Regions from separate parts of the Homo sapiens genome. Here region 2 is linked to region 1. The links come from fine-mapping of genetic effects on gene expression. Tissue or cell type: caudate. Region 1 holds a variant in brackets; the other region holds the start of a gene. All regions are shown on one strand. Distances are from middle to middle.

Region 1 (8,109 bases):
CTTCCTCACTGTGTTCCCAAGCTCCTGTCTTTTCTCCACACTTCCCATGCCAAACAGACATGATTTTTGATTTCTTCTCTTTTGTTGAATCTGCTAAATGTGAAATCCGGATGATTCCACTAATGTCAGACACCACCAATCTCTGAACAGTCCCATTATGCTTACCTTTCTTGCTGCAATCTGTCAGGAACAAGCTTATTTCATGTTAAAATAAATGGGTTTCACAAGTGCTGCAAACAGCATTTGTTGCCTGTCAGTGAAAATATGAGTGTGGGTTAAAGTTGAGAAGGATCGTTTAGATATTGGGGGTCTTGATGCTCTGTGAGGAATGAATACAATCCCTAGGTGAAATAACCCAACAAAATGAGTTCTTCCACTACGCAGGGAAGACATCCTGGAGCCATGAGGAAAGGATGTTACTTCTGTTGCAGAGCAGTGCAACACTGATGAAAAGGTGAGGGAGGGATGCATATGCCTGACAAAAGATTCCCTCCCAGAATTAATAGTTATGTTGACAGTTCACTCTGTGCACTGTTCATTCTAGCACCCAAAGATAATGATTACAACCAGTTCTTACGGGGCACTTTTTATAACTGGTGATGTTCTAAGTATTATACATGATTTTTGTCATTTAATCCTCAGCCATGCTATAGAGGAATACTAGTATTATCTGTATTTTAAAAATGAAGTCCCTTATCTAAAATTGTACAGCTGCTAAGTGTCGAAACTAAACTTTGAACCCAGACAGACTGGTTTCAGACTTTTACTTTTATCCTATATTAATTCCATTTAATGACAATACTTCTAAAATATCAGTGCCTTTCATAGTACTAGCAGATAATAGATGCTCAATGAATATTTGCTGAAAGAAAACATTTGCTAAAAATATTAAATCTTATCAGAGAAGGGAGTAAAGGGTATGGGATATTGTCATTAGTAACTTTGTCTTCCCAGGACTACAGTCTCAGCTAGATGAGGCACTAGGTGCAGGCATTTTGTAGGACACCATGGAAGAGATCAAGATCTCCCCTCCTTGTCCCAAAGGTTCAAAATCTCGGAGTTAGAACACAGCTTCTCTGGTCCAGCCACCCTGAACTCTATTGTGACTCCTTAGCCATGCCATATATATCATCCCTCCACACATTGGCTCTTGTTTCCATTGCCTGAAATGTGCTCTCCTCTTTTGTTCACAGGGAAAACTCTTCATCGCTGTTTAAGGATCACTACTTCTCTATCATTTTATCTGACTTCTGCTTTACGTTTTTGAGTCAAAAGTAGCTGTCCTTTCACATTTCAATTTATATCCAACTCTACCATTTTGCATTATTGGCTAACATTTACCACCTATTTTCCCCACTCAAAGGTGAGCTCTTTGCAGGAAGAGTCACGTTTCATCAGTGTATGTATCCACAATACCAAGCATATCCATAAGGCCAAGCATAGTTCCAGATGCGTTCTGGGTACTCATTGGCATGACTTCACCAAATTGTATTTCCTGCTTGCTGCACTTTGCTCTGTTGTTCCAAAGGCTCAGTGGGCCTGCTTGGGGAGTTCAGGGCCAGAACAATTACAGGGAATGGGCTGCCTATCCTTCTCAAGTTAACTGGCCACCAGCCACTTGCTCCAGGGGAGGGTTAACTTGATTTAAAGGTACAAGATTGAGGAAGAGTATGTCATGAACTTGACTAAATGATTCTCTTAACCAGTGTCAGTCCATTGAACTGTCCCTTCAATTTTAACTGTTCCATCAGCCAAACAGCTTACTCAGCTTTTCAGAGGCCTATTACTTGATCTGAAAACATTGGCAACATTTTGGCCTCCAAACTGACTTTAAGCCTGTTATAGATAATGTGTTCTCTCTGGATTAGGTGACACATCTTGGTCGTATTGGAGAAACATCAGTTATGTCTGTGCCTTGGCTGGTAACAGCCAGAATTGAGGGTGTGCCAGCTTGCACCTCATTGCTAACAGACTCCTTAATTTACCTGCTAAATCTAGTAGACCATTCACTGTTGTCTTAGAATTGAGATGCATAATGTGCACACTTGTTCTTCCTCTACACTTTATTTGCTCAGGTTATTAGATAGTCAAATTCTCTTGGGTTCTGCATTAAACCTTGTCAAAAGAAGCAAGAATGTGAGAAACACCCAATGGGGCTTGATTTCTTTGACGAGACTTGCTATTGCTGCATTTACCCCTCGATAATTGAGTTTCTGTTCCTCCTAATATTTAAACACATCAACTCACTTAATCTTAAGTGTCTCCTTTTCTTGTAATGTCTCCATTCTCATAAACTACTGTTTGTAAAATAAAAGGCTGAAGAAGCCCCTTTGTGTTTTCCTTTTACGGAGGCCTGTGCAGTGAGAATGGAAGCTCTGACTTTTCATGCTTCTTGGGCTATGCATATGCATGCCTCCTGTTTGTCATGCCTGAAATAAATTTTCTACCTGTGTTTTTGCTTCATGCTTTGCACACAGTGCCCCAAATTGCTACTCCATGGGAGACTAGCCAAGGACACGTTGTGTTCCATTTTCATGATGAAATGTAGATTTCCCGTTGAACCTAATCAACCTTCATTTCAAAGGGTTGACAAGGCAGATACTTAAAGAATTCAGTTGGTTAAATTTATGGTACTGAAAAAGGGTCCATTCCAAGAATATTCTCTGATTCTAAAGCTGTAGAATTTTTATTTGATTGTGTATTAAATTACATTTTTATTCACTTCAAGTCCCTGCTTCTCAATTTTGTGTCCCGCATAGAGAGACAAACTTGTTGACAGTCATATTGATCTAACATTCTGTCCCAGACTGAAAACATCTAGTCTTTCAGTCATGTTTCCATCAGATAATTTTTATACCCAATGATATATCTGAGATTTTTGCATGAAAAAATATGGTCTTTTTCTAGTCAGGAAGTAGAAATAATGTACTTTGAATTAGTAAACATGTTCCAGGGATGTGCTAGATTTTAACATCTGCTAAATCATTTTTTGCAACTCTGTGGGGTGGGTGCTGTTGTCTCTTTTTCACAAATAAAGGTATCTGGACTTAGGCTTCTATGGTCTTTCCCCAAAACACAGATAGCAGAGGAGGCAAATCCAGGCTTGCCTTTCCCCAGAGCAATTGCTTTTTTGACATTCTGTAAAATTTTTTTCCCTAAAAATCCTTGTTAGTATGGGAAGGCCAACAGTACTTAGAGTATCAAATGAGACAAAATTCTTCCTGCTTACCCCAGATGTGACCTAAGAATCACTCTCAACACAGCATCTAAGTAGCCACTATCGATTAATTAGTACTAGTATGCAGATTGAAAATTATTTGCCATTCTGTCTGCAAAGCCTGCAAGTGTGGACTTTATTACTAGACCATAAGGTTCATACCCTAACCCACTCTCTCAGCAAAGTAGCTCCAATGAAGAGGGGATGGTAATGCAGAGACCTAAGGCACGAAGACCCACTGACCTGAAGAAGCAAGGGTGGTGTCAGCAGGAGTCATTAGTAACACAAACAAGTGACACACAAATAAGACATCTTGTGTATCCTTCAGCCAGTTGAGAATCTCTCTGGCAAAAAAAAAAAGGTTTATTTACCTTGGAAGTATCCCATAAAGATACAGCAACCAGATTTCTCTCCCACTCTAATTCACTCTTTCAGGTCACTCTAAACATAATATATAATTATGTAACTTAATGATTCATACCCAATTACATGCTTGTTCTCACCCAGTTTGCACATGCTTTCTAAC[A/G]TCATTGTGTACTTGGCTACCCACTCAGCATCCATTTTCTTCTTTCTAGATCACATCTGCATTCCCTGCCCACCTTCTCCCTCCAGCAACTTCCGCAGCCTAGTCATACATTGTGTGCATCAGGCCTTCACCAGCATGCTAAGACTTGTCCAAGAGTCTTGATGTCCTAAACTGCAAGTGACATGTAAAGCTTGGATCCCAAGGTCAAACAGCATGACTTGAGGATAACATAAATAGGTAAAAACATGCACTCCTTCACTCATATGCCATTTTAGAACACTTGATTAACTATGTCTATAAAATGAGAAGTCTTTTTTTGCTCTCTAAACCTGGGCCTGCTTTTAAGCAGGGTTAATATGGACAACAGTAAAGCCCTGGTTTTTCTGAAGTCTAGTATGGATTTGGTTATGTGAAGTTGAAGCCTTCACATACAGCCCTGGAACCAAGCAGAATTGCTTTGCATAATAGAGAAGAAAGTTGGCAAGGAAAGATCCAGGAGTAAATGACAGGAAAAAGGGCAGTTGTGTAATTAGATGCAGAGAAACTCCAGTAGTGGCATGACTGAGAAGTGAATTGGAGGTATAGGTATGTCTAGTGGGAACATTTAAGAGTTTTTTTTTTAGTGTGAGATGTCACACATAAAACTCCTACTTCATCATCTGTTGATACCAGCCCTTATTTTGGCATGATTCCTTCGGTGGACTTGAAAGAGGTACTAAGCTCTCTATATCCGGGGTAAGTGAGGCAAAAACAGAGGGAGCAAGTTTATATGCAGGAGCTGCAGGGGTTGCAGAGGGGAGTCTCAAACAGCCTCAGAGAGACATTTTGGAGTCTGAATTGGAATTATCTAAATCAAGGTATCTAGATTACTAAGTAGAGCCTTTCCCAGTCTAGGGTTCCTTTCTGAAACAAAACACACACACACAAAACTTCAGGAACAATTTTCTCAGTCCTCTCAAGGTTGCAAATATCTAGTATCATTCTAGGTGTGTGGAAGAGAAGCTAAGTTACTATATAATATGGATATTTTAGTGCAAGGGTCAACAAACTACTACTGGGGGCCAAATCCAGCCTATTGTATACTTTTGTAAATAAAGTTTTGTTGCAACACAGATACTCCCACGTGTTTATGTATTGCCTATGGCAGTTTTCATGTATTACCCACAATGCCTAAAATATATTTTGTGTGGACCTTTCATTAAAAGTTTACCAACTCCTGTTTTAGGGCATTAGGTCTTTATTAAGCCTTAAATTTTTAGGAGACCCTAGATGAGAAAGGCTGATTGGTGACATCTTAGATTAAGTAATCAACTTAGAATGGAGCCAGGAATGTGTCCTCACCTCAAATGAACACTAACAGGAGATATTTACTGTACAGACCATTCTGTTCTTTGCCAAGATGACAGTTGAGACTTAGTCATATTTGAAAGAAAGTAGACTAAAAAGAGGAGAACGTTACAGTTGTAACTTTGCCAGGATTCCAGTCTATTTATGACATGGCCTAGGAAACTTAAACCCAGTTGGGGAAAAACTCCCATGAAAGAGTCTATAATGGCCATAGATTTATCAGATTTATACTCAGTCCCCTTTCTCAGAGAGACATATCTCTTCTAAATTTAGACATGCAGTGGTGGCAGGCCTAAGCACCAGTTTGGGGACTTTTTGTTTTGTTTTGTTTTCCCATCTTGTACATTCAAAACCTCTTTTTTGTCTTGGCTTATTTAGAGTGCTTGTACCTGGTGCCTGAGAACCAAGTTGGATGTGGGCTCTGTTTAGAGATATAGCCTCTTTGAGCTTTGTGTGCAGATATTTACCAATCTTGTGCCTCAGTGACCCCACCATGTCTTTTCCTATGGCATTGTTTAATCCTAAGACTTCTGTCGTTTAAGGTTTTTACCCTTGCCTTGACATCCCTTTTAGCTAGGGCATTACCCTTGGAAGGCTCTAAAACAGAGGTTGCCATTGACATTTCTGAAGTCTATGCCCCTAAGCACATCTGCCGTGCAGTTCTTATTTTTCCTCTGCTTTTAGATGTTACAGGCCTTGAGTAACATTTTTTTTCACTGTAATATTTTTCTCCAGTAATGGGATATGTCTCTAATGCTTCATTTTCCTTGCTAGTTTCTCTTTGCCTTTTAAGAAAAGCTCAGCTGAGATTCTGACAGTTTAACTTTCTTCTTTAGTTTGTTCCTTTCATTCTCTACCACAACATGGAAGGCTACTGGTATTAGCTGGACTAAGCACTCTCTTTCCTTTCTCCTTTTTGATCTCTGCCCTAGACAGGGATGATACTCAAGTATTTAACAATTAGTATGGCACAGTCACTAACCAATAGAAAGAAATGCTGACTGTAAATAAGACATATGGCCATGTTGGTATATACTGGTGCGGAATATCAGCCCAGCCCTAGACATTGGCTTTTTAAAAATTTATGAGATATGTATATACATATATTTTATAGTGGGCGGCTTTACAGTAAGACATGATAAGTCAGTGAATTCTGGTCAATAAGGTAATCTATTGTTCAAGCATATCCACTTTGGCTTCCAAACCTGGATTGGTAAACCTAATAGTAGTATTGCAGCAGACCAACATCTAAACCAGAACAGGATTTCATCTTTTATTGTTTTCCCCAGGTCCCTGTTAGTATTTTTTCTGTATTCCTCATATTCTCTTAGAGGTCAAGTTTCACGAATTTTGGCATACTTCAATAGCTGCATCTGCACCATTGTGTGCTGGAGCTGGCTCTCATTGGCTCATAGAGCTGGCTGTGCGCATCTCTTCCAACTTTGTGTTCAGTGACTTTACATTGAATGCTTGAAATCAGTCATGGAGGGAGTATTCATATCTCAGAGATTGACAAATGCTACGAATAAGGTTATTATTTTCCAGAGAGTGGGTTGTTAAACAATAACCAACACAATTCCACCTACAATAACTAGTCTCCTTGAAATTTACCCCAATAATGCTGCAAGTATTTTAAGATGATCTTTCCTAAAGTAGTCTAATTTCTTCTCCTGAAACCTTTTGTATAGCTATTCCAACTTTCAAGAAGTGGTTCTCCAGTTGCTGTTTCATAAATTACCTTCAGCGTTAAAAGGCGCGTTTTCTTGGATCCAGGCTTCCTTTAAGATTGGTTAAGCTCTTATTCTCTTGCTCTGTGGGATTTCTTTGGACTACAGCAACCCTTTTGAATCTAAAACAAAACATTTCCTCCTCTTTTCTAATCTCCTCTCTTTGAGCCATTTGATCTAGAAACATCTCTTTTTCCTTTTTATATCTGTCTATTGGCATCTAAGGTTTTATTTTCACATTAAGATGGGTCTAGGCAGATCTCCAAGAGTTCCCAAGGATTTTTTTTTTATTTCTTCTACAGCTTCTGATATGGTATTAAGATAATTCATATTTTTAAAGCAAAGTCCATTTCTTTTCTTAGCAAGCTTAACTCCTGGGGACTACTCCAGACAAAGACCTTTTTAGCTTTTAAATTCATAACCATAATCACTGCAATTTTTTTAAATTACTTAACCTAACAAGATACCCTATTCTTTCTTTTTTTTTTTTTTTTGAGACAGAGTCTCACTCTGTCACCCAGACTGGAGTGCAGTGGCACAATCTCGCCTCACTGCAATGTCTGCCTCCCAGGTTCAAGCAATTCTCCTGCCTCAGCCTCCTAAGTAGCTGGGACTACAGGTGCACGCTGCGTCTGGCTAATTTTTTGTATTTTTTAGTAGAGACAGGGTTTCACCATGTTGCCCAGGCTGGCCTTGAAATCCTGGGCTCAGGCAATCCGCCTGCCTCAGCCTCCCAAAGTGCTAGGATTACAGGCGTGAGCCACTGCACCTGGCCACCTTATTCTTTATAAAATAAATATTCCTATTCTTTAAAAAATGCTCATTAATAAAATCCACCATCCTTTTGTGGATGAGAAGACAAAGTCTGGGTGTTTAAAACCTGAGGTCTTGGCCAAAACCTAGGTTTATTAATAAATCTGGAGCCAACCCAGTATCATGGCACCAGGGATAACCTTTGGCTACTCATGAACATCCTGCACAATCTAAGAAGTTAGCATCTCCCCACTTCTCAGGCTTGGCCCTGAATGCAATTCAAAATAATATAAAAGAACTAACTTCAAGAATGTACCTCCTCTTCTTTTCAACTAATTTTCTTTCAAATGTAAGCTCTAATATCACCTCTATGAAGATTTCTCTGACTCCCCAGTGTATTTGGTCTTCCCTCTGTACTTTTGTTCGTTCTGTTTTATTATACCTGTATTGTATAATAATTCTTTTTTTCATTGTTCTGTAACACTAGGAAGTAATCTTCCTCGATGAGAATATCTTTTATTCTTCTTCATAACCCCAGG
Region 2 (8,109 bases), 310 kb after region 1:
ATGAATGTGTAAGAAGTACACATGGAGATTAGCTAAACTGCATCAAGTAGCCGTAAGTTCTGAATGAATAAAGAAAAATTAGAAATTTTCTTCATTCATCCCCTCAGACTCACACATCTATCACTTTCACCTATATTTTCTTCTCTGTATCTTATACAACGTTGAACTTCCTTCTGCATACTGCAAGTATCTGTTTGCCTAAGCTACAAAACATGTCAGAGAATGGTGGTCCCACAGGGTCCTGAGCTCTCTTTCTAGAATAAAATAACCAAGAGAACCACTGAGAGCCTAAATCTATTGCTACCCAACTGCTGAGTTATTTACTTTTGTGATTTCTAGAGGCAGAGACCCACTGAACTTGTCCCAAGTGACAACATACTGAAATGTTAAAATAGCATAAGGGAGTGGGTAAATAGAGGGAGAGGTTGAACAAAGGATTGCTAATTTCAATGGAAAGAAAGTTAAAATTTCCAAAATCTGTAAAAGAGAGAGGAAAGAGGTGATGGCAGATAAGAAGACAACTTGAAAAAGAAAACTTGCTTGTACTTTCTTCTCCTATAAAGTCTGAAGCCGTGTAAAAAATTTTAAAGAGGCAGAATATACATTAAGAATTGCCACAAGTGTATAGTTTAATTCTTGCCTATATATGCATCAATGTAACCATTACTCACTTTATTTCCAGCACTGCAGGAAGCATGTTCGTGAACGTTCTCAGTCAAAACCCTCCACTCCCCAGAGATAATTATATTCTGACTTCCATCACCAAAGATTAATGTTACTTGCTCTTGAACTTTGTAAATATAGGATCTTAGAGTATACACTCTTTTGTGTCTTGATCCTTTCACTCATCATTTTGTCTCTGAGATTTATCCATGTAGTTGTATGTTTTATTGCGGTGCACCACTCTATTACATGACTACATGGCATTTATTCATTCTGTTCTTGATAGATATTTGGGATGTTTCTGGGGTTTTTTGGCTATTATAAGTAAACTTGTTATAAATGTTTTTGTGCTTGTCTTTTGGTGGATGTATGCAATCATTTCCTCTGGGAAAACACCAAGGACTATACATTACTTAATTTGCTTTGACTACTACACTGGAGAAAATCTCATGAAGATGACTCTGAAGCCTATTATCTTGCCAAAATAATTGAATAAGGTGATAGTGGCAAAGGCTATCGCTACTGAGTGCCAACTAAATGCCTAAAATGTGTCACATTGTTTACATACATAATCTCATTTCCTCCTCACAACCACCCCCAAAACTATGTATTATTCCTGTTTTGCAAATAAGAATATTGAATTTAAGACTTTGTATTAGGAAATAGCTCTTGCTTTCCTGAGTGTATGTGTATGTATATGTGTAGATGTTGGGGGAGATGTAAATAAATGCCCAGGGAATGGAGCTAAAAGAAGGGAAGTGATGGAAGTTCTCACTGCATAGGTGCAGCTGCAGATTAGCTTGGAGAGATGGGACAATCTGAAGAATAAAGAGTGTTGCACTTCAGGTGGACAGAATGTTATGGGAGGAGTGAAAATAGGAAATAGATTTTAATTTGATTGAGAGATGTGTGTGTCTGTGTGCACATGTGTGGTGGGAGGATAGAGATATAGTGCAGTGAGCAAACTATCTAAAAAACAGTGTGAGATTAGAAGAGTTTTAAAATTTCTAAACCATGGGTTTTCAGCTTTATCATGTAGAAAAAGAAAAACTAGAATGACATAATGAAAGTTAGATTTCATGAAGATCAACCTGGTAGTTGTGTACAGAATGCGTTGCTAGGAGGAAAAGGAATCAAAATCTATTTTAATAGTCAAGGAAAGAGGCCATTGGTGCTTAAATACAGGAAGGTGTATCTCAGGAGAAAAGTGAAGATTGGAGATAACAGCGCTTGCTGTTTTACAGTGTTTTAAAGAATAGAAATTTTCTGAGAATGAATAAATGCCATGTAGTCATGTAATGGACTAGTACACAGCAATACAATATTGAACTACATGGATAAATCTCACAGACATAATGATGAGTGAAAATATTAAGACACAAAAAAGCATATACTCTAAGATTCTATATTTATAAAATTCAAGAGCAAGTAACATTACTCTTTGGTGATGAAAGTCAGAAACATTTTCTGTGACCAGCAGGGGTGAGCGGAGATGATTGGCCCCTTTTGTTGATGGGGAACTAAAGACAAGAATGGTCCAAGCTTATCTCCAAATAAGAATATTATGAAGTTAAGTCTTGAATCCAGTTCTATTATTTCACTATATCATTATGCCTCTACACAAAGGTGATGATTGAGATGCATAACATTTTCCCCCATCTCCTCTAAATGTAAAACATCATGCATTAGAGATGGCCTGGTTTCCATGTACTTCAACCTTTACCCACATCTCTAGGTATTTAATTCCCTAAGAAAGGGCCATGTGACATTATTTCCATTTTTACAGGAATCAAGTACTCTGGAATAATATATTCTCTTTTAAAAAATTCTACTGTTTCTTTTGTTTGGTTTTGTTTAGAGAGGTCTAGAAAGACTTGAGATACCAACTACCAACTATGCCCAACTCAATATACATTTTAAGAAGACTAGATATTGACTTATTGGAAAATCAACCCTAAATGGTTTACTTGGGCTTTCTAACATGACTCAAGAATCTTCAGAAAATTAGAAAGAAAGATTTCAAAGTGACAGTAGATTATATGCTACTCAAAAGCAGGAGTAGTATTTTTCTGGCTGTGCTTAGCCTAATGCTTATGATACAGTAGGTACACAAACATTTGCTGAATTAATTACTGTGGTCCATAAAGCCCAGTGATTATCCATGGGTGCACCCTAGTGTACCATAACCATATAGTGGAAAGAGCAGTGGGCAAAGAAATCTTGTTCATGGTCTTAGCTCCATAGAAGATAGATCACTCTTTAATGGGTCTCAATTTCCTTATCTGTTAAGTGAGAGATTGGATGAATACATGATCAGGTACTTACATGCCATTTCTCACATTCTAGTATCAAGGGTGTGTTCCTGACATCCACTATAATTATTCAATGGCAAATAACCTTGCATAAGTAAGTTTAATACTAGATTTTTGTTTATGCTAGGGATAACAGAATGAAAGAGATATCATGGGGTTTTTGTCTCACTCAGTATCTCTTAGGGGAGCAATGACGATCAGGATGAGTTTTCAAAAGTCGTTAGCTGGTACATCTTTTTTACAGTAGTTTACAGTAGTTTGCAATGCTGCATGGTAAGATAACTTGGGGTTAATTCCCAGATAAGTTACATATAAAAACTCAACTAATAAAGTGTCTTTGTTCTTCTTTTCTTTGCATATGTGGTAAATGATCTTTCACTACTTAAACATTACCTTAAATATGGCTTATTTTCTCTATTCAATTAGATAAACTTTGTAAAATATATGGCAAAAGCTTTTTTGTCTTTTAAAGAACATATTTTCACATATGCCAATAAACTGACACCAGGTAGAATGAAAATGTAATTGTTTCTTAAGTAGGGGTCCTCTTTTAGAACAGTAGTGCATTAAATTTCTAGAGTGAGAACTACAAATAACACAGTCTTCACAGCACCTAGTATTGAAGTTAGCATTGACCCAATAACAATGGAGGGACACACTTTTGAAATAAGTTATTGGTTATCATGTGAGAGAAAGTTCAGTTAAATGTCAGATTTCAGAATACACAATGTCACTTTTCTACCACTGTTTATTGCATATTGTCATCATTTTTAAAAGGCAACATTGTTGAGCACTACTGGGAACAGATCTTACATGGGTTTTGGTGGTGGTGGTGGTGGTGTTATTCTTCAGAATACTTACGCAGGGTGCTGAACATCTTCCCTGTTGTACTCTTGACTGGATTGGGATTGACTTAGCTCATACCCAAGGATATTCTTTTATTACTTTTCCATCTGTTAAGAATGCTTAGGAACTTTGGTTTTTCTCACAATTTCTTTCCAGCTTTGTCCTATTTACTAGATTGTCTAAAATTAAAGTTTCAAGATTTATTTGAGCTAACCCTACTTTTTTTCTATCAGCTATAATATTCCCCAAATCATCTTTTTATTGGTTACTACAGATAAAATTTGTGATAGAAATGAAATGAAGCAGAGAGAAGTTGCGAGTAAAAGTTTCGATCTCCTGCTTAACTGTGCACCTTACTCTGTTGTGCATATCTATCCATCCATCTAAACCAGTATAACAAATATTTTCTTTAAATATTTTGCAAAGTTAGTGCTAAGTAAAAATATGCACATGTGCATTCCCAGCTCCCGTTTATCCTATGTACAAATCCAACTAGTGGGGGACGGGGCGGGGTGGAAGCAAGATTCGGACAAGCTATAATACATCCACAAAACCACTGGGGGAATTTTCATCTCCCCTCACCGCGCAGCTTTGCAGAAGCGCCCTTTAAGGTGTATGTCTGTGTGTGCCTCTCTCAAGCCTTCTGGATGATGATGCGAGAGGGAAGATTTTACATTGCAAAGATCAATGTATTAAAAATGCCGTGCAGGTAGTTCATAGCCAAGAGCCTTGCTCGTGTTGGAGGATGCAACGGAGGAGAGAGGCAGGAGCACCGGCAGCCAGCTGGGGGCTGACCTGATTCCCTAGAATCCTCAGCTCCCTTCCTCTTTCCTTTCGACGTCCTTCCTTCCCTTTTTCTCCTCTCCCCCCTCCCCCGCTTTCCCTTCTCCAGATAAGCAGCTCCGGGAAACAAAGAATCCGGGGCTCTCCAGACATCAGAGCTTAAACCCAGGACTCTGCAAGCGGCATCTCATTCCGGGGTCCAGGGCTCTCCCGGCTCTCCATCCCCTCCCTAACCTCCCCCGCCTCCCGCGCTCGCTCCCTCGCTCCCTCCCCGCTCGCTTCCTCCCCCACCATCGCAGCGCTAGGAGGAAGGCGGCCGGGGCTCAAGATGGCTTTAGCCGGGCTCTGCGCCCTGCTCGCCTGCTGCTGGGGGCCGGCGGCGGTGCTGGCCACGGCCGCCGGCGACGTGGATCCATCCAAGGAGCTGGAGTGCAAGCTCAAAAGCATCACGGTGTCGGCACTGCCCTTCCTGCGCGAGAACGACCTGAGCATCATGCACAGCCCCTCGGCCTCGGAGCCCAAGCTCCTCTTCTCGGTGCGCAACGACTTCCCGGGAGAAATGGTCGTGGTGGACGACCTGGAGAACACGGAGCTGCCCTACTTCGTGCTGGGTGAGTCCCGGGGGAGGTCGAGGCGGCCGGAGGCGCTGGACCGGCGCCCCCACCCCCCACTCCAGCTCGCTCTACACACCCACTCGCCGACGACCTCCCCTCCCCCACTCCTACCTCCCGGATCCGCCCCACTCCCGGACCATTCTCCACACCCACTTGCATACTAGCGCCTCTGTGCACCTGACTTCTCCCCAAATCCGACCTGGATGCTGAGCCTCCTCTCAGCTGCCCTGCCTCAAAGAAACAGGTTGCATGAGTCTCTCTGAAACCTCTCCCAGCCTTGACCTCCCAGCTTTGATTCAGGAGCACATCCACACAGCACTTTTTGTCTGCTACCAGTTCAACTCCCATAATCCCTTCTCCCCACTCCCTAGCCACATGCTCAGCTCTTTGCTTCACTCACTCTGGATACCCACACCCACCTACAGCACTTCCTGGGGGCTTTAGAAACAGGTATCCTGTCATCACCTTGCCAGCTATGTGCAAGCCAGATTCTAGTCTTCATTCATGGAGAGCCCTTTATCTGTCACCAGGCTACTGACACCCTCCCTTCCAAACACTCAAGTTTCTTATCCCCCAGCTGTTCATTCTGGGAAGTCCTACCTCCATGCTTAGATGTCACAACCCCCTAATTCAACCACATCCACACATCCATGTCACGTCACAGTTGGTTAAAGATATTATACAACTGTAGTCTGTTAGTATTGGTCTCTTCTTTGTTCCCAGGGCCACCTTAGATAGGCGTAGGCATTCCTGCACACAGAATGACCTTTCTAGGCAAGGGGCTCTTCCTTCCTTTGTTTGTTTACATCTCTCTCTTTTTGGTACTCCCACTGTAATTTTCTTAGGTCACCTTCAGGTAGTGGAACTCCTGTCACTTCAGGTACTGGAACCCATACATTACTTCAAATCATCCCTGTTTTCCACTACTAAGCTGCAAAGGTTTTGTGGTCCTGCTCTAGTATCTTGCAAAGCACCACAAGTTCATGTTACTTTGCCAAATTCCCCTCACTTCTCCATGTGTAGATGGAGCTCTCACCTTGCTGTGCATGCCTACCATGCAATCCATTTCTTTAGTGATGTTGCCAATTATTCTTATTTTGCCCAGGAGAAATTCAAAGAAAACCACACTTCAGTCTCTAGATCCAAGTAGAGAAAAAAAGAAAATGTCTAGGAGGCTGTTCCATTTACTTGATACCCTACCAACTACAGTTCCATTTGCAGAAACATGGTTTCCTGATGGCCACATGTAGGCTAGAGCCACATGTGGAATTCTAACACATCCCTCTTGCTCTTCCTTCATAGGAGATGTCTTCACACTGAAAACACTAGGAAGTGAGTGAATAAACCCCTACTCCCCAACCCTTAGGGAAAAGCAATTTCAAAAATTGCCTGGCCCTTTGAAAAGTTGCTTTATAGTTCCCGGAGTGCAGCTCAGTTGAACCCATTAAACCCAACCTATGCTCTTGATAGGATTATTTATTTTTGCTTTCAAAAATACCAATAACATAATAAAAACTGGGGACTAGCTGGAAATGGGAGCATTGTGGATATGCCGCTCATCAAAATGTACAATTACTGGGTTATTTGGAGGATGGAAAGTTCACGTTGAAGTCATGCTGATATGCAAAGTACAATCTGTTCATCATAGTATATAAAAGTGAGTAGAGGGAATTATGTGTTTCTAAAGAGGCTGTTTTGCACTCTGCTTGTAGTGTTTACTGTGCATGAAGAGGTACAAGCATGGTGCTTAAAAAAAGGGAGGGCTAGCAGGTATTCAACATTTCATTTCTTTTTTGCAGAATCCCAAAACCAGGGCCTAATGCTGTGATGTGCCTACTAGGAACCAATGTGCACAGTGAAAGCCCAGATGTTATAAGAACGGGTTTTCTGCACCTCTGTGCAAAGCTGCCCACTGCAGTGTCCTGTTGGGGTTGCTATGGTAATCTGGTGCAACTTGGCATTTACACACAGGCACACAGACACACTCTCTCACTTCAGGGCCAGATGCACTATTTAAATGCATCGATTATCTCCCACTCTCCCAGTCAGTGGGGTATGCTCAGAACCAGAGAAGGGCTGGTACTTATTCTTTCTGACTCAGTATGCTCAAAGGAAGAAGGAATGAATTTCAGTTTGGGTGGGTGGTTAAACAGATCTGGGCAGAAAGGAAGAGGAGTCCAAATTTATGGAGGATAGACTCAAAGGTAGTTTTGAATTTAACTTTTGTGGTCTTGATCATGCAGCTCTTGGCCAATGGTGAGGGCTGTAGTGACTTTGGTTTTGAGATTTCCCTACTCCTATCTTTGGAACCTTGTTTACTTAATCCATCTCCTGGAGGAATCTGAATCAGTCAATTCTGGAAATTTATTGAGTTGTACCTGCTCAGCACTCAGAGGCATTACTAGGAAACAGAAGTTAAAAAAAAGTCTCTTGCCCTCAAGTGGTCTCTAGTCACTGGAAACACAAAGATACCTGTAAGAGCTGTACCTACCTAATTGTGTGGTATGGCTGTTAAGGGGTATAGGGATGCTGTGGAAGGATTTGCTTGCATGACAAGAGCAGATTCCATGGTAATCATGGACCAGAAGCTTAGGCTAAAATCAGATCCTGTCACTCCTTTGAGTGAAAAAAAAAATTACAAACAACAAGAAAAACAAGCTTTGGCTTCCTTTTGCCTCTAGGATCAAGTCCTGTCACTTCACTGAGGCTAACTAGGGTCTTCTCATTCTGATTGCAGCCAACTTCTCCAGCCCTTTATCCCTCCAAGCCTGCCATGGCCTTCTGGACTGTTTCAAGACTTTGCACATGTAGCTACTCTGCCTGGAAGGCTCTTTGCCCTTTCTCTATTAGGTGGTATCCATTCTTCCTTCTAAACCATGCACAAGTCATCT

The links. PIP is the estimated chance that this variant, and not a neighbour inherited with it, causes the effect.
Region 2: ASTN1 starts here. The variant in region 1 is fine-mapped to the expression of ASTN1 in caudate (GTEx, PIP 0.99).

What each region holds. Positions count from the first base shown.
Region 1 is chr1:177,468,490-177,476,598 of GRCh38, reverse strand. No RefSeq gene overlaps it. Among named protein-coding and RNA genes, the nearest start is that of LINC01645, 120 kb to the right of the region's middle. The variant A/G (reference allele first, on the strand shown) is at 3,744.
Region 2 is chr1:177,161,500-177,169,608 of GRCh38, reverse strand. ASTN1 (astrotactin 1) reads left to right here and starts at 4,897. Exons shown (of 23, transcript NM_004319.3): 1 at 4,897-5,215. The coding sequence starts at 4,933.